2 linked regions of the Homo sapiens genome follow. Each later gene encodes a partner of the first gene's protein in a complex. Each region holds a gene or a part of one and is shown on either strand. Other genes may lie near its edges.

Region 1 (7,186 bases):
GAGCCTGTGTCCCTGGACTGTGAACTTCATGCTTGCTTCTCAGCTTCCCCAGCCCCTTAGATGGTACAGAACTGTTGGAGGGGGGTGGAGTTGTATATTTCCCTTGCTCTGGGTAGGTCACCCTCTGATAAAACACCAGGTTAGGCCTCTGGTGAAATAATTTCTCCTGAGGGCAGACCTTCTATTAATAATAGAATGTTCCAACCTATTTCAAAATGGTTCCTCTTCTCCTTCCACTGCCAGAAGCATAATGAGATTTTCCCCCTAATATTCGTGGTAAGGACCTAGCAGAGCTCCAGGAGGTAACACTCTCAAGTGTCTCATACTACCCTGCACCATGACTGGGCTCTGCTGGAGTTCTTAATTTGCAGAACTGCCCACACTGAGCCTCCCGCAATTTCTCAATTACAGGGCAAACTTTCCCAGCCGGCACTGGGTCCTTGGAGGTTTCTGTCTGCTGGTTTCTTCCTCTGGAGGTTGTGCTTCTGTGTTTGCCTGTCTCTCCAATTTGGGGGGCAGTGGTTTGCCCAATGACCTCAATTCTCTGAAAGAGCTAAGAAGAGGTGTTAATTTTTCGGTTTGCTCAGCTTTCTACTTGTTGCTAGAATGGAGCGCCAATAGTGCCTCCTATAGTGACATGTAACCCTCAACTCTAGAGATGATGAAGCATACTAATGACAAAGGAGAAATGCTTCAGCAGTTTTCTGTCAGCACATTACCCCTTGAAAAAGCTGCTTCTTCCACATTCTGCAAGAGATGGGTCTCAACTCAGAGCTCAAGGCAAATGACTTCCTTCAAGGAGAAGGAATAAACAGTCTCAGAAACCATGAAAGCCTGCCCCCAGGAGTGTCCCTGAACCTCAGCAGGGGCCACACTTACCTTGCAGAAATAGGTGAGGCATGCTCCTGGTACAAAATCCCAATGGTACAGAAGGACAAATTGAAAAACAAGTCTCCCTCTAAACCCCTGACCCCGAGCTACCTAGTTCTCCTCCCTAGAGGCAAAGCTGTTACCAGATTCTTGTATCTCCTTAACATATATCCTTAGAAGAGCTGTCAAGTGAACACATGTTTAAGTGAAAACCTATTTTAGAAGTGCATTTTCTTAAGGAACTTTAGGGTTGGAAGGAACCTGTGTCAGTCCTTAATTCACAACCTCCATTAGTACTTATTGTTCTTGCACAAAAATCTTTCTCAAAAAAGCCCTTTCCACTCTGACATAGCTTATTCTACTTTTACTTAGCTCCAATAACTTATAAAACATATTTTTGAAAGTCTAAAATCTGCCACTATGTTTTTTTTTCCTAATCAATCTTTACTTTGACCTCTAAGCCAGAGAAAACAGGTGGTCAAATGCCTTTTGCCTAAGATGGAACTTAGAATATTTGAAGACCTCAGATCTTCACCCTGCCAAATAACGTGTTTCTCCTCCCCTTTCACAGAGCATTTGGTTTTAGGAAATTCAGAGCCACATTCCTTATAGACAAGACTAAACTCTTATTCAACATACTCAGAAACTTCTTCTAAGAGGATAACCACTCATCAGAGGAAAAAAGTTTCTCATGTACAGCTGGCAAAGGGATGGAACCATCTGTGTTATTAAAATTGACAGACGCTTATGAGATTTATTAAGGGAAATACTAGAGTCTTAGTACATACTTGCTAATATAGCATACATGAAGGCTTTATCTATAATTTTTTTGGCCAAGCAGAAATTTTGGTATTACTCACCCTAACAAATTTCCAAGACATTATGAAATAGAATTTTAGGTCCTGACATCACCATTTGTCTCAGGTTTTGAAGCGTTGCTGGACAAGAGGGGTAAAACACGGCTCTGCCTTGGATTCAAAGTTGGCCTCTCATACTAGCAAGTATACCTTGGTATCCTGGTCACTTCTCCCGGCCACAGCATCACATTGCTATAAAAGGCAGATACAAGTATTAACCAGCTCACAGGTTATCAGATAAGCTTAGTCTGACCAATGCTTAACACAGCAACTGGGCCACTATTGTCATTCCTGTGGTGGTGGCACACACACCCAGCCTCTGTCCGGGCCATGGTCTAGGACCACCCTCCACAGAGGCTGTGAGCTAGAGCCCTAACTGTGCAGGGCCCTAACTATGCCAGGCTACTTATCTCTCTTAAGAGGACTTCATTAGTGCCTGCTCGGCCATACAGTTTTTTACTTACCAAGTAACACAGTTATCAGCACACTCCAGGTACTAGCCAAGGACTACAAAATCAACGTGAATGTCAGCTTTTGTATCAAAAGCTCAAAGGAGAAACTCAAACTTTACATAGATGTCCCATGAAGATGTTCAGCAAACCCATTCTTCTCTGTTCCCTGGAATCCATCCCAGTATTGTGCTATGTGTGTGTCTAGTAATTCTTTACAAAAAGCTCTGTTTCTTGTGATGCTATCAGATCACATTGAAGAATATACAAGCCGTACTATGAAGGCTGTTGTCTCATATAGTCCTAACGTAGTGAGAACTGATGTTCTTACATGCTGTCTTTTTGGGCACTCAAAGAAATTCCTGTACAGTCTTACAAATCAGTTGTAGCTTAAATTGATTTGTGTTGTGACTTGTACACACAGGTCACATTCCCTTGACAGAAAATATAGTTTAAAACCAAATTTGCAGCCCTTGTTAAGTGAATGCACAGGACTTTATTGTATTCAGGTCTTTTATTGTAAGACTCACTCCTGTCTTCATTTTATGTTCCACTGTTGTGCTTCCCATTTGCCTTTCTCTAGTTTTGTTTTCTGTGTTTCTACGGACTGCTCTCAGCCCAGGTGTGCAGGAAGCACACACATGCCTGCAGAGCCTTCATGGCCTCTGCATTCAGGGCATGACTTCAACGCACAGTGGCTGTACTGATTTGTTAAAACAAAGGAACAGATTACTTCTCCTAATTCACAGGGAAGTTCCAGGTTGTGCGGGCAGTGAGCAGACCTGTGTCTGTCTGCGCTTGCCCTGGTGAAAAACCCCACCGTTCAGGCTGCAGGGTGCGAGACCCAGGCACAAACATTTTGCTGGATGAGGAGGAAAGATGTAAGGTTGCTCCCCTTCAGAGACAGCAAAGGGCAGGTCTGTAGCTTCACTTACTTCAGGATTGTGATTTTTGACAGAGCCGAGAGATCAGGGTTGTTGAACCAGGCCTGAAGGTCCTAGTGAATCTCGTGAAGAGAGGAGGGGTCTGGCTGTAACATGGACCTAGAGGACATTTTTACTGCAGGAGAAGGAACAGTGGGGATGGGGTGGACTTGCCAAAGGAATATAGCTCAAGTTCCTGCAGCCCAAAAAAGCTCAGTTTCTTTTGGCCAAAGCTTCCGCGAGTTTCCCTGGCATTTCTCCTGCGGGAGCTACAGGGGCAGTGGGACACTTAGCCTCTCTAAAAGCACCTCCACGGCTGTTTGTGTCAAGCCTTTATTCCAAGAGCTTCACTTTTGCGAAGTAATGTGCTTCACACATTGGCTTCAAAGTACCCATGGCTGGTTGCAATAAACATTAAGGAGGCCTGTCTCTGCACCCGGAGTTGGGTGCCCTCATTTCAGATGATTTCGAGGGTGCTTGACAAGATCTGAAGGACCCTCGGACTTTAGAGCACCACCTCGGACGCCTGGCACCCCTGCCGCGCGGGCACGGCGACCTCCTCAGCTGCCAGGCCAGCCTCTGATCCCCGAGAGGGTCCCGTAGTGCTGCAGGGGAGGTGGGGACCCGAATAAAGGAGCAGTTTCCCCGTCGGTGCCATTATCCGACGCTGGCTCTAAGGCTCGGCCAGTCTGTCTAAAGCTGGTACAAGTTTGCTTTGTAAAACAAAAGAAGGGAAAGGGGGAAGGGGACCCTGGCACAGATTTGGCTCGACCTGGACATAGGCTGGGCCTGCAAGTCCGCGGGGACCGGGTCCAGAGGGGCAGTGCTGGGAACGCCCCTCTCGGAAATTAACTCCTCAGGGCACCCGCTCCCCTCCCATGCGCCGCCCCACTCCCGCCGGAGACTAGGTCCCGCGGGGGCCACCGCTGTCCACCGCCTCCGGCGGCCGCTGGCCTTGGGTCCCCGCTGCTGGTTCTCCTCCCTCCTCCTCGCATTCTCCTCCTCCTCTGCTCCTCCCGATCCCTCCTCCGCCGCCTGGTCCCTCCTCCTCCCGCCCTGCCTCCCCGCGCCTCGGCCCGCGCGAGCTAGACGTCCGGGCAGCCCCCGGCGCAGCGCGGCCGCAGCAGCCTCCGCCCCCCGCACGGTGTGAGCGCCCGACGCGGCCGAGGCGGCCGGAGTCCCGAGCTAGCCCCGGCGGCCGCCGCCGCCCAGACCGGACGACAGGCCACCTCGTCGGCGTCCGCCCGAGTCCCCGCCTCGCCGCCAACGCCACAACCACCGCGCACGGCCCCCTGACTCCGTCCAGTATTGATCGGGAGAGCCGGAGCGAGCTCTTCGGGGAGCAGCGATGCGACCCTCCGGGACGGCCGGGGCAGCGCTCCTGGCGCTGCTGGCTGCGCTCTGCCCGGCGAGTCGGGCTCTGGAGGAAAAGAAAGGTAAGGGCGTGTCTCGCCGGCTCCCGCGCCGCCCCCGGATCGCGCCCCGGACCCCGCAGCCCGCCCAACCGCGCACCGGCGCACCGGCTCGGCGCCCGCGCCCCCGCCCGTCCTTTCCTGTTTCCTTGAGATCAGCTGCGCCGCCGACCGGGACCGCGGGAGGAACGGGACGTTTCGTTCTTCGGCCGGGAGAGTCTGGGGCGGGCGGAGGAGGAGACGCGTGGGACACCGGGCTGCAGGCCAGGCGGGGAACGGCCGCCGGGACCTCCGGCGCCCCGAACCGCTCCCAACTTTCTTCCCTCACTTTCCCCGCCCAGCTGCGCAGGATCGGCGTCAGTGGGCGAAAGCCGGGTGCTGGTGGGCGCCTGGGGCCGGGGTCCCGCACGTGCGCCCCGCGCTGTCTTCCCAGGGCGCGACGGGGTCCTGGCGCGCACCCGAGGGGCGGGCGCTGCCCACCCGCCGAGACTGCACTGTTTAGGGAAGCTGAGGAAGGAACCCAAAAATACAGCCTCCCCTCGGACCCCGCGGGACAGGCGGCTTTCTGAGAGGACCTCCCCGCCTCCGCCCTCCGCGCAGGTCTCAAACTGAAGCCGGCGCCCGCCAGCCTGGCCCCGGCCCCTCTCCAGGTCCCCGCGATCCTCGTTCCCCAGTGTGGAGTCGCAGCCTCGACCTGGGAGCTGGGAGAACTCGTCTACCACCACCTGCGGCTCCCGGGGAGGGGTGGTGCTGGCGGCGGTTAGTTTCCTCGTTGGCAAAAGGCAGGTGGGGTCCGACCCGCCCCTTGGGCGCAGACCCCGGCCGCTCGCCTCGCCCGGTGCGCCCTCGTCTTGCCTATCCAAGAGTGCCCCCCACCTCCCGGGGACCCCAGCTCCCTCCTGGGCGCCCGCGCCGAAAGCCCCAGGCTCTCCTTCGATGGCCGCCTCGCGGAGACGTCCGGGTCTGCTCCACCTGCAGCCCTTCGGTCGCGCCTGGGCTTCGCGGTGGAGCGGGACGCGGCTGTCCGGCCACTGCAGGGGGGGATCGCGGGACTCTTGAGCGGAAGCCCCGGAAGCAGAGCTCATCCTGGCCAACACCATGGTGTTTCAAAATGGGGCTCACAGCAAACTTCTCCTCAAAACCCGGAGACTTTCTTTCTTGGATGTCTCTTTTTGCTGTTTGAAGAATTTGAGCCAACCAAAATATTAAACCTGTCTTACACACACACACACACACACACACACACACACACCGGATTGCTGTCCCTGGTTCAAGTGTGCCAAGTGTGCAGACAGAACATGAGCGAGTCTGGCTTCGTGACTACCGACCATAAACCCACTTGACAGGGGAAACATGCCTTGGAAGGTTTAATTGCACAATTCCAACCTTGAGCTGCGCGGGTTCCAAGAGCCAGGCCCGTACTTGCTGTTGATGTCATTGGCTTGGGGAGTTGGGGTTTGGTGCCCAGCGCGGTCGTTGGGGGAGGGGCAAGGCATAGAACAGTGGTTCCCAGACCTTGCTGCACATTGGAATTACCTGGGATTAAAAAAAAAAAAATCAAAACAAAAACCAGTGTCTGGCTCCCGCCCCCAGACATTCTGATTTAATTGGCATGGGGCAAGACCTGGACTTGGGATTTTTTTTAATGCTCTTCATGTGATCTGTTGGGCAGCCAGATTTGGGGATCACTAGACGGAAGAAGGATTGTTAAAGTCTCCGGAGATGTTACTTGCCAATGCTAAGAGCTCTTTGAGGACATCTGGAATTGTTACAATATTGCCAAATATAGGAAAGAGGGAAAAGGTAGAGTGTGATTCCAATAATAAAGGATTCCGCTTTTCATTGAAGGAACTGGTGGAAAGGTTTCTTCTCTGCTGAGCCTGCAGGCCCGTCCTGCCTGCCTGGGGTGCCCGGGAGACGCGGGCCTGCTCCGGAGACTGCTGACTGCCGGTCCTGTTAGTCAGGTGTCAGCCCTGTCTCTGCCGAAGAGACTCTTCTCTTTATTTTAAATTAAACCCTCAGAGCACCACCAAAGCATCACTTTTCTCCCTCCATTGGTGTTCTCATTCTTTGATGTTACTTGTTTGAACACCACTATTAGTAGTTGGAGATTTGTTCCTGAGAAAAATATAAATACCACTTAATTTGCCTGTTTGTCCCGCATTCACTCAAAACAGAATGCTCCTGAAGACAAGAGAGAGAGTAGGAGAACAGACGCTATTCCATTACAGTAACATAAAAGACTGGATTTTCAGGGGCAAATTATTAAAATAGGAGATGAGCTCTTTTAACAGAAATTTGTTTAAGGCCTGTGTCTATCAAATTCAGTGGATTTTATTCAAGATGCACTTTGTTTAGTGGGAGTTTTGTTTGGTTCTGGGACATGCTAACTTCTAGACTTGCTGCTCTTAGAGGTAATGACTGCCAGACACCATTTCATGAGTCCTAATCCCCACATTAAGCATAAGAGGTGCACACTCTCCTCCTATGGGGGAAACTGAGGTACGAAGAACTAAAGTGACTTTCCCACAGCTGGTGGGAGGCAGACGGGAAATTCACACCAGGGGCTTCCAACTCCAGATCCCTCTCTCAACTTCCAAACTCCACTGCCTTGTCCGAGTTCTGGTTTCAGGAGATCCAAATCAGGTGTGTGCAAATGTCTAATGTCAGAGCTG
Region 2 (7,134 bases), on another chromosome or scaffold:
AAATGTGGGTGAAGACATGGAAAAATGGATCTCACATATATTGCTGGAGAGAGTATAAAATGGAACAGCCACTTTGGAAAAATATTTGGCAGTTACTTATGAAGTTAAACATATATCTACCCTATGAACTAGTAATTAGGTATTAAATGTTGAGAAATGAAAACATTCATTGAGCCAAACCTGGAAACAATCCAAAGGTTCATGAACAAGAGAATAGATAAACAAATTGTACTATATTCATACAAAAATACTTCCCAGCAATAAAAAAGAATAAAGTACTGATATGCACAACCTACAAGAGTCTCAAAAACATTATGTTAAACAAAAGAAGCAAGACCCAAAGTTAAACGTGCTGTATGATTGCCTTTATATAAAGTTCAAGAACAGACAAAACTTATCTATGATGAGAGAAAGAAGAACAATGGTTACCTATGAGCGGGATTCACTGGAAGGAGTATATGGAAAATTTTGACGGTAAAGGAAATGTTCTATGCTTGGAAATTTCTACCAAAAATGGTGTTTTTTAAAAGACAGTTTGAGGTATTGATGAAGTGTATATATACATTTATCACAACTCATCAGATTGTACACTTAAGATCTGTTCACTTTATATAAATTTTACTTTAATGAAAATGAAAAAGAATGCATCTTAATTAGAAATCAGGCTGGGAAAACCAAAGGAAAGCAACTTAATTTATTTTGTTTCTCTGGTATTTAAAATTGAAATAATCCATATGTCACCAACTCAAATATTTTCTCTCCACCATCTATTTTATACATCTTTCCAGTTTTGAGTGGCAAGCAAAGAGGATACTAATTCACAGTTTTTTGTTTTGTTTTGTATTTTTAGTAGAGATGGAGTTTCACCATATTGGCCAGGCTGGTCTTGAACTTCTGACCTTGTGATCCACCCACCTCAGCCTCCCAAAGTGTTGGGATTACAGGCGTGAGCCACCGTGCCCTGCCTGATTCACAGTTTTATACATATAATAAGAGCTGCAAATAGTGGTTTGCATTTTCATTACTTCCAGCAAGTAGTGTTTCATTATATGCATTTTACAGTATCTTTAGTTCTCTTGTCAAGCCTTGTAGAGCACTTGAAGTGCTCTTCATTTAATGGTACTCTACTTCTCATAGGTTGAGCAGAACTGAAGGGTAGGGAAAGATTGTTTTGGGAAATCCAGAATTCTTTCCCTAAACCTTTACATTTTTAGAAACTAAAATACCTGGGAGAATGATGAGGAGACATGCTGTAATTAAGGAAGTAATCTGTTGATGGTGTGGCGGTGGCAATGATTAGTAAGAGGTGCTGAGCACAGTAAATACATAACCCAGGAGAACTAGGTGCCCTGTGTTTCAATGAGGAAATTTCATCGGAAAAGTTAGAATTTTATGACAAGCACACATAAACATATGTCCCAATAGTCCCTTCCAGCTATTGCTGTCCACTCACACTTATAACCATTCAGAGCTATCTCCTTGCTATTAATGTCTAACTTTCTTACTGACCTACCAGCAGGGTTTCCCCCACCCAGCTGTGTCCCTTCAGGATCTAAGGAACTATTAAATAAGAAAAAAAATTTTTGTCCATTCCTGTTCCACATCCTGTCAGCATGACCCTTCTCCTTCTCTATGTCCTTCTGAGGCATCCTAATTACTCCACAGAGCTTCACACTGCATGCTGTAGTCCAAAGTACATTGCAGCTCCCCTCCTTCTTTCCTGACACCCAGTTTGTGACCAGTCATGTACTTGGTGGCTGGTCATTCATTAGCTCATACTCATACTCTCTGTTGTTGCTGTTAATCAACCTCAGCAAGCTCTTGATGTTAAGGACTACGACTTCTGTTTCTTGTACTCCAGGCAGTGCTCTATCATATATAGCTGTTTAATTAACGAATGAATTAGTTAACTTTAACTCAATTCCAGAAATTAAATCATATTTGGCAGCTCAAACCTATAAGTTATAGTGCATTTCTTATCAATTTTAAAATAAAGAGTTTATTTCAACCTTTCTTGAGTGCAAGAAAGGTTCAGTTTTATCCAGAAGTAGGAACATAAACTTATTATTTATTTATTTATTTATTTTTTTGAGATAGAGTCTTGCTCTGTCACCCAGGCTGGAGTGCAGTGGCGTGTTATCGGCTCACTGCAACCTCCGCCTCCTGGGTTCAAGCAATTCTCCTGCCTCAGCCTCATGAGTAGCTGGGACTATAGGCATGTGCCACCACGCCTGGCTAACTTTTTGTATTTTTAGTAGAGATGGGGTTTCACCGTGTTAGCCAGGATGGTCTAGATCTCCTGAAGTGTGATCTGCCCACCTTGGCCTCCCAAAGTGCTGGGATTACAGGCATGAGCCACCACGCCCGGCTGGAATATAAACTTATTAAATATCTCTGTAAATCCTTCCCAGTTGGGTAGCTCTGTCCTATGATTTTGCTATCTGGGCAACTGTAGATGATGAATTAGCTGCGATTGATTTTCATCATCAGTCATCAGCCATAGCATCTGCTATACCTCTGTTGACTCCGTCATCTCCTAGGGAGCTTGTACTCAACATTAATGACAACATTAGCCCAGGTGACATGTAATTAAGAAAGCAAACCTTTTTCCAACCAAAAATAATATGAGAGATTCCAAATCCAAACAGAACAGAGCTGTGGATCATTTCATGTTTGTCTTCATATCATTCTCTCCACTCCACTCCACTGACACAGCGTGATGCTTGATTGTCCTCTAAGCCCCTTCCATTGCTGTCATCTGGGATGCTGGCAATGTATTGTGCTGAAAGGGAAGCTTATTAATAAAGTTAGTAACTCGAAGAGTCAGTGCAGGTTATTTGTAGGATGCTCATTATGAGTCTTGAGTCTGACTCAGTCCAGAAAGCAATGGAATATTCCGCATAACCACCTAAAGGACTTCTCTTTCCCCCTTCCCCAGGGTCTGTTTCTCCTGTAAGGGTTCAGAGCTGCCTGGCAGAGGCTGGCTGAAATAGGAGAAATCCTGACTTAAGCTGTTTCAGGAAAGTGATCCAGTCTTTGGAGAATAATCAGGACATAATTAAGTATGAGTAAAAGGCTTAGAGTTAGTCTGTTCTCCTCTGTAATGGGGTGTTCACTAGTGTGACAGTTGTTTTTGTGACTATTGCTTTTACGTACATTTTTGACCAGCACTTGGAACACTACCTCAGGGTAACTTAAATGAAAGTCCATTTTCCAGGATGGAGTAAACTGACAGAAATTTCCATCGTGCATCAAATCTGCTATAAGTTGTTTGCCTTCTGGGTATTTTTGGGCCCTAGTTGTACTCCTGAAGAAATAACCACTGTTGCTCCAAGTAGAAAGTGGTTGAGGAGACAGCTAACAGATACGTCCAGTTCTTATTTTCTATCACAGAGATGTGAAAAAAAAAAAGCCTAAATTATCTTAGAAGGAAAAGCATTCCTCTGTGCTGGATTTCCAGTGCTTCCCAGCTTTGCACTGTTAGCTTATTTTTTCCAATGTCCCTATAATAACAATCCACTCCTTTCTCTGCACTCCTGGCCCCTCGTGATGTTTTATCATGCTCATGCTGAAAGAAAAGGTGTCTGTCCATACTGTATCTCTTCATTTGGCCTCAGGGATTTCCCTTTGATTTGGAAAGAATAATCTTTCAAATTCCGCTATAAACTATACAGGAGAAAGAGAAAAATAAGATAAAGCTCCTGGAATGTGCACTGGTATTGACATTTCGTTCAAATAATGGGCTGAAGGTGAACTATCTTTACTATTGCTCATGTGAATGATCAATTATTATCAATCCAAACTATCAACAGTGCTGCTTATTATTGATTTATACTGCATGGTTTAATTTTGTCTCCATCCTTCCAGACATTAAAACATAGCCAATATTTAGCAGTTCCCGCCATTCACCATGAGCACCTCCACAGCCCCCAACTCCTCTCTCCCAGTTCTGCCCAGGATATTTATGGTGAGTAGCGAGTTATCTCCTCTTTGGCAGTCATCCCTGCTTTCCTGTGTGGAGGAATTGCCCACATTCGCATTTGCAAACAGAGGCTCACTCAAGTGTCACTAAAGGAAAGGAGGTGGAGCCTGAAGAGCTTTAAAAAGCAAAGCTGAGTCATTCCACTTTTCAAAAAGAGAAACTGTTGGGAGAGGAATCGTATCTCCATATTTCTTCTTTCAGCCCCAATCCAAGGGTTGTAGCTGGAACTTTCCATCAGTTCTTCCTTTCTTTTTCCTCTCTAAGCCTTTGCCTTGCTCTGTCACAGTGAAGTCAGCCAGAGCAGGGCTGTTAAACTCTGTGAAATTTGTCATAAGGGTGTCAGGTATTTCTTACTGGCTTCCAAAGAAACATAGATAAAGAAATCTTTCCTGTGGCTTCCCTTGGCAGGCTGCATTCAGAAGGTCTCTCAGTTGAAGAAAGAGCTTGGAGGACAACAGCACAACAGGAGAGTAAAAGATGCCCCAGGGCTGAGGCCTCCGCTCAGGCAGCCGCATCTGGGGTCAATCATACTCACCTTGCCCGGGCCATGCTCCAGCAAAATCAAGCTGTTTTCTTTTGAAAGTTCAAACTCATCAAGATTATGCTGCTCACTCTTATCATTCTGTTGCCAGTAGTTTCAAAATTTAGTTTTGTTAGTCTCTCAGCACCGCAGCACTGGAGCTGTCCTGAAGGTACTCTCGCAGGAAATGGGAATTCTACTTGTGTGGGTAAGTACTCCAATGAAAAGGTGCTCCAGGTCTCCGGGAAACTGCCCCCACATCCCTGTTGGTTCAATCTGGTATACTTGGGCATTTAACAAAGTTTGTCTTTGGGTATGTATAGTTGCTTAATTTTTGTTTTCTGATGCATGTTTATTTTCTTACTGGCCATTAGAGCTAATCTGCTACCAACTATAAAACTTCATAACTCTCAAACTGTACTTCTGTGTATAAGTGAATGAATATGCCTCATTTTAAACTAGCAGAACATTTCATGGAAGCTTCAGCTTTTACTCTGACAAGAGGAGTAATTAACACCTGGCTAATTGCTTGGAAATTAGGGAAACAGATGGTTGATTTTTTGTTTGTCTGTTTGAAACTCTTAAGCCACAAAGAAAAAAATCCTTCCTTCTGATAACTTGTAAGAATTCAGAAGTTCTAAAAATTAGTGAAAAATGGAAAGGGAACTGTGAACAAAGGTAGTTGTGAAAATTAACCTAAATTTCAATTTCAACCTCCTTCACTTTCTCCCCACTCTTACTGTTTCTGAGGCTCTGACACAACTCCGGAGTTTTAGTAACAGGTGCATTGCAACTTTAAGAACTGCCAAATATGATAATGGGTAAATAAGCCACACTGTCCTCTCATATTAAATGAATTTTTTGCCAAGGGGAAATGGGAGCTTGACTGAATGCGAATTACAATCCTGCCAAAGGATATTGCCTGAAAAACATTCTCTCTCTAACTGTTAATTCATTTATTTAATCCTTGGGTGAGCCTCCAACCTGCTGCTTAGACACGGCAGCCGCCTTTGTTGATGAGAGGTTATAGCTGCCCCGACATTCCATTTTTATCAGCTTGCCCTTTTGAGATGGCGTCTGGCTTTTAAAAAGAGGTAGATTGAGGGGGAAAACACAGTACAGTTTCCAGAAGAGACACCTATGGAAGACAGTACACAATAGGCAATAGTTTGAATAAAGAGAGCAGAATGGAGCCAAACTGCCAAAGCTAGGCTGCTGTCCTGGCTCTCCCATTAAGGAAGTTCCCGATGAGGAAATCAGGTGCTTTTGCTCAGAATCTCTGGACTCTGTTCTCAGGTAGCACTCCTTGTAACAGGTGAGCAGAACTCTAGGGTATTTGAAATAAAGACTTAATCCTAGTGATCTCTATGTTCCCAGCACCTAGGACATTCCTGCTTCCACAGTGTGTACTCAGCAAATTCTTGTGTATGAATGAGGCGTCTTTCTCTGATCTGCTAATGACATAGTCCTAGAGAACAGCAACAAAAAGAGGGTGACAAATGACAAAAATGGCCCCATGAACCTCAGACTCAGCTGTTGGAGACAGAAGTAAAACTTCTGTATACAGTTATGTCAAATGGACTGGACTCTCTTTGGGGTGGGAGAATTTTCCGTGGAGTAGTTGGCAAATATCTAGAGTTGGGCACTGTCATTTGCATGGGATGTGAGGGGTGATGGTTGGGCCGATCTATCAGGCAGCCAGAAGCTAGGAAAGAAGAACCCAGGTTGCTGAAGCAGAACCCAAGAAATTACAAAAATGAGCTTTTATGGATGGCTCTAGGATCTCAGAATAGTCTGATTCCTGCTGGCAAGCAAGTCTATGCCTTGTTTTCCTTGCCACCTCTGGTGGCTCAGAAGTGCCTTCATTGAGGTAGGTTGTACCCAATAAACATGAAACCCAGGATAGAAACAATAAGTTGGGGAGACTGTGTCACAGAGTGGAAGGAACCACAGGTTTTAGAAACAAACAAGCCTCATTTCATATCCATGCTACCAACTTAATAGCTGAGTTACTTTAGAGTATCTCTGGGAAATAATACCCTCGCCCACTGCTTTTAGGATTTTTTTGTGGGGAATCACATGAGATAACCTAGCATGTACCAAAGCATGGTGCTTAGCAGAGTATGCTCAATAAATGTCCTCCTGGGCTCCACGTCTTGGCTAAATCTCTGATCAAGTCATACGATGAGATGCCGTATTTGAACAGTGCAGTGACACGGCACAGATCCATGGAGTGTGGAATGTGTGGATGGCACTTTGGGATTCCCTGCCTCTCTGCTACCTCATTTCTTGCAAGTCACTGGTTTAAATCCCGTACTTTACGCTCCTGGTCTCATGTTAGCTGATAACTGCCTGGGTCACCCTTTGTCAGTCACTGTGTGCATTTCAGAGGATAGTATTTCTTTCTCCTCTCTAAATAGATATGGTGCCATCATCTATTTTTCCCTCATTTAAATTCTACTTGCCTTATTTCTTGCCCTTGGCATTGAGACAGATCACCTCTGCAGCCACCTGACCCAGCAGGAAGAATGCTTTATGGTCTAACAGTATTCAGGTAAACTTATGCAAGATTGTTACTCATGTGACTGCTAGCCGGATAAACCAAGTGATAGCAACACAATTAGGTTTCTTT

Evidence for each region. The genes of interacting proteins can lie anywhere in the genome.
Region 2: the proteins of EGFR (region 1) and EGF are in contact, whole or in part, in a crystal structure (PDB 3NJP), measured with the Homo sapiens proteins. Residues at the interface, in NP_005219.2 of Homo sapiens: Ser35, Asn36, Lys37, Leu38, Thr39, Gln40, Leu41, Gly42, Asp46, Arg53, Tyr69, Ala92, Leu93, Glu114, Leu122, Ser123, Tyr125, Asn152, Leu349, His370, Leu372, Pro373, Val374, Arg377, Asp379, Ser380, Phe381, Thr382, Leu406, Gln408; in NP_001954.2 of Homo sapiens: Ser979, His980, Asp981, Gly982, Tyr983, Leu985, His986, Met991, Ile993, Ala995, Leu996, Lys998, Ala1000, Cys1001, Asn1002, Cys1003, Val1005, Tyr1007, Ile1008, Gly1009, Glu1010, Arg1011, Gln1013, Tyr1014, Arg1015, Asp1016, Leu1017, Lys1018, Trp1019, Trp1020.

Annotation. Positions count from the first base shown.
Region 1 is NC_000007.14:55,014,831-55,022,016, forward strand, and holds the start of EGFR (epidermal growth factor receptor isoform a precursor), read left to right. Parts: upstream 1-4,186; 5' UTR 4,187-4,447; coding exon 4,448-4,535; intron 4,536-7,186. UniProt on the Homo sapiens protein: Receptor tyrosine kinase binding ligands of the EGF family and activating several signaling cascades to convert extracellular cues into appropriate cellular responses.
Region 2 is NC_000004.12:109,908,753-109,915,886, forward strand, and holds the start of EGF (pro-epidermal growth factor isoform 1 preproprotein), read left to right. Parts: upstream 1-4,130; 5' UTR 4,131-4,583; coding exon 4,584-4,710; intron 4,711-7,134.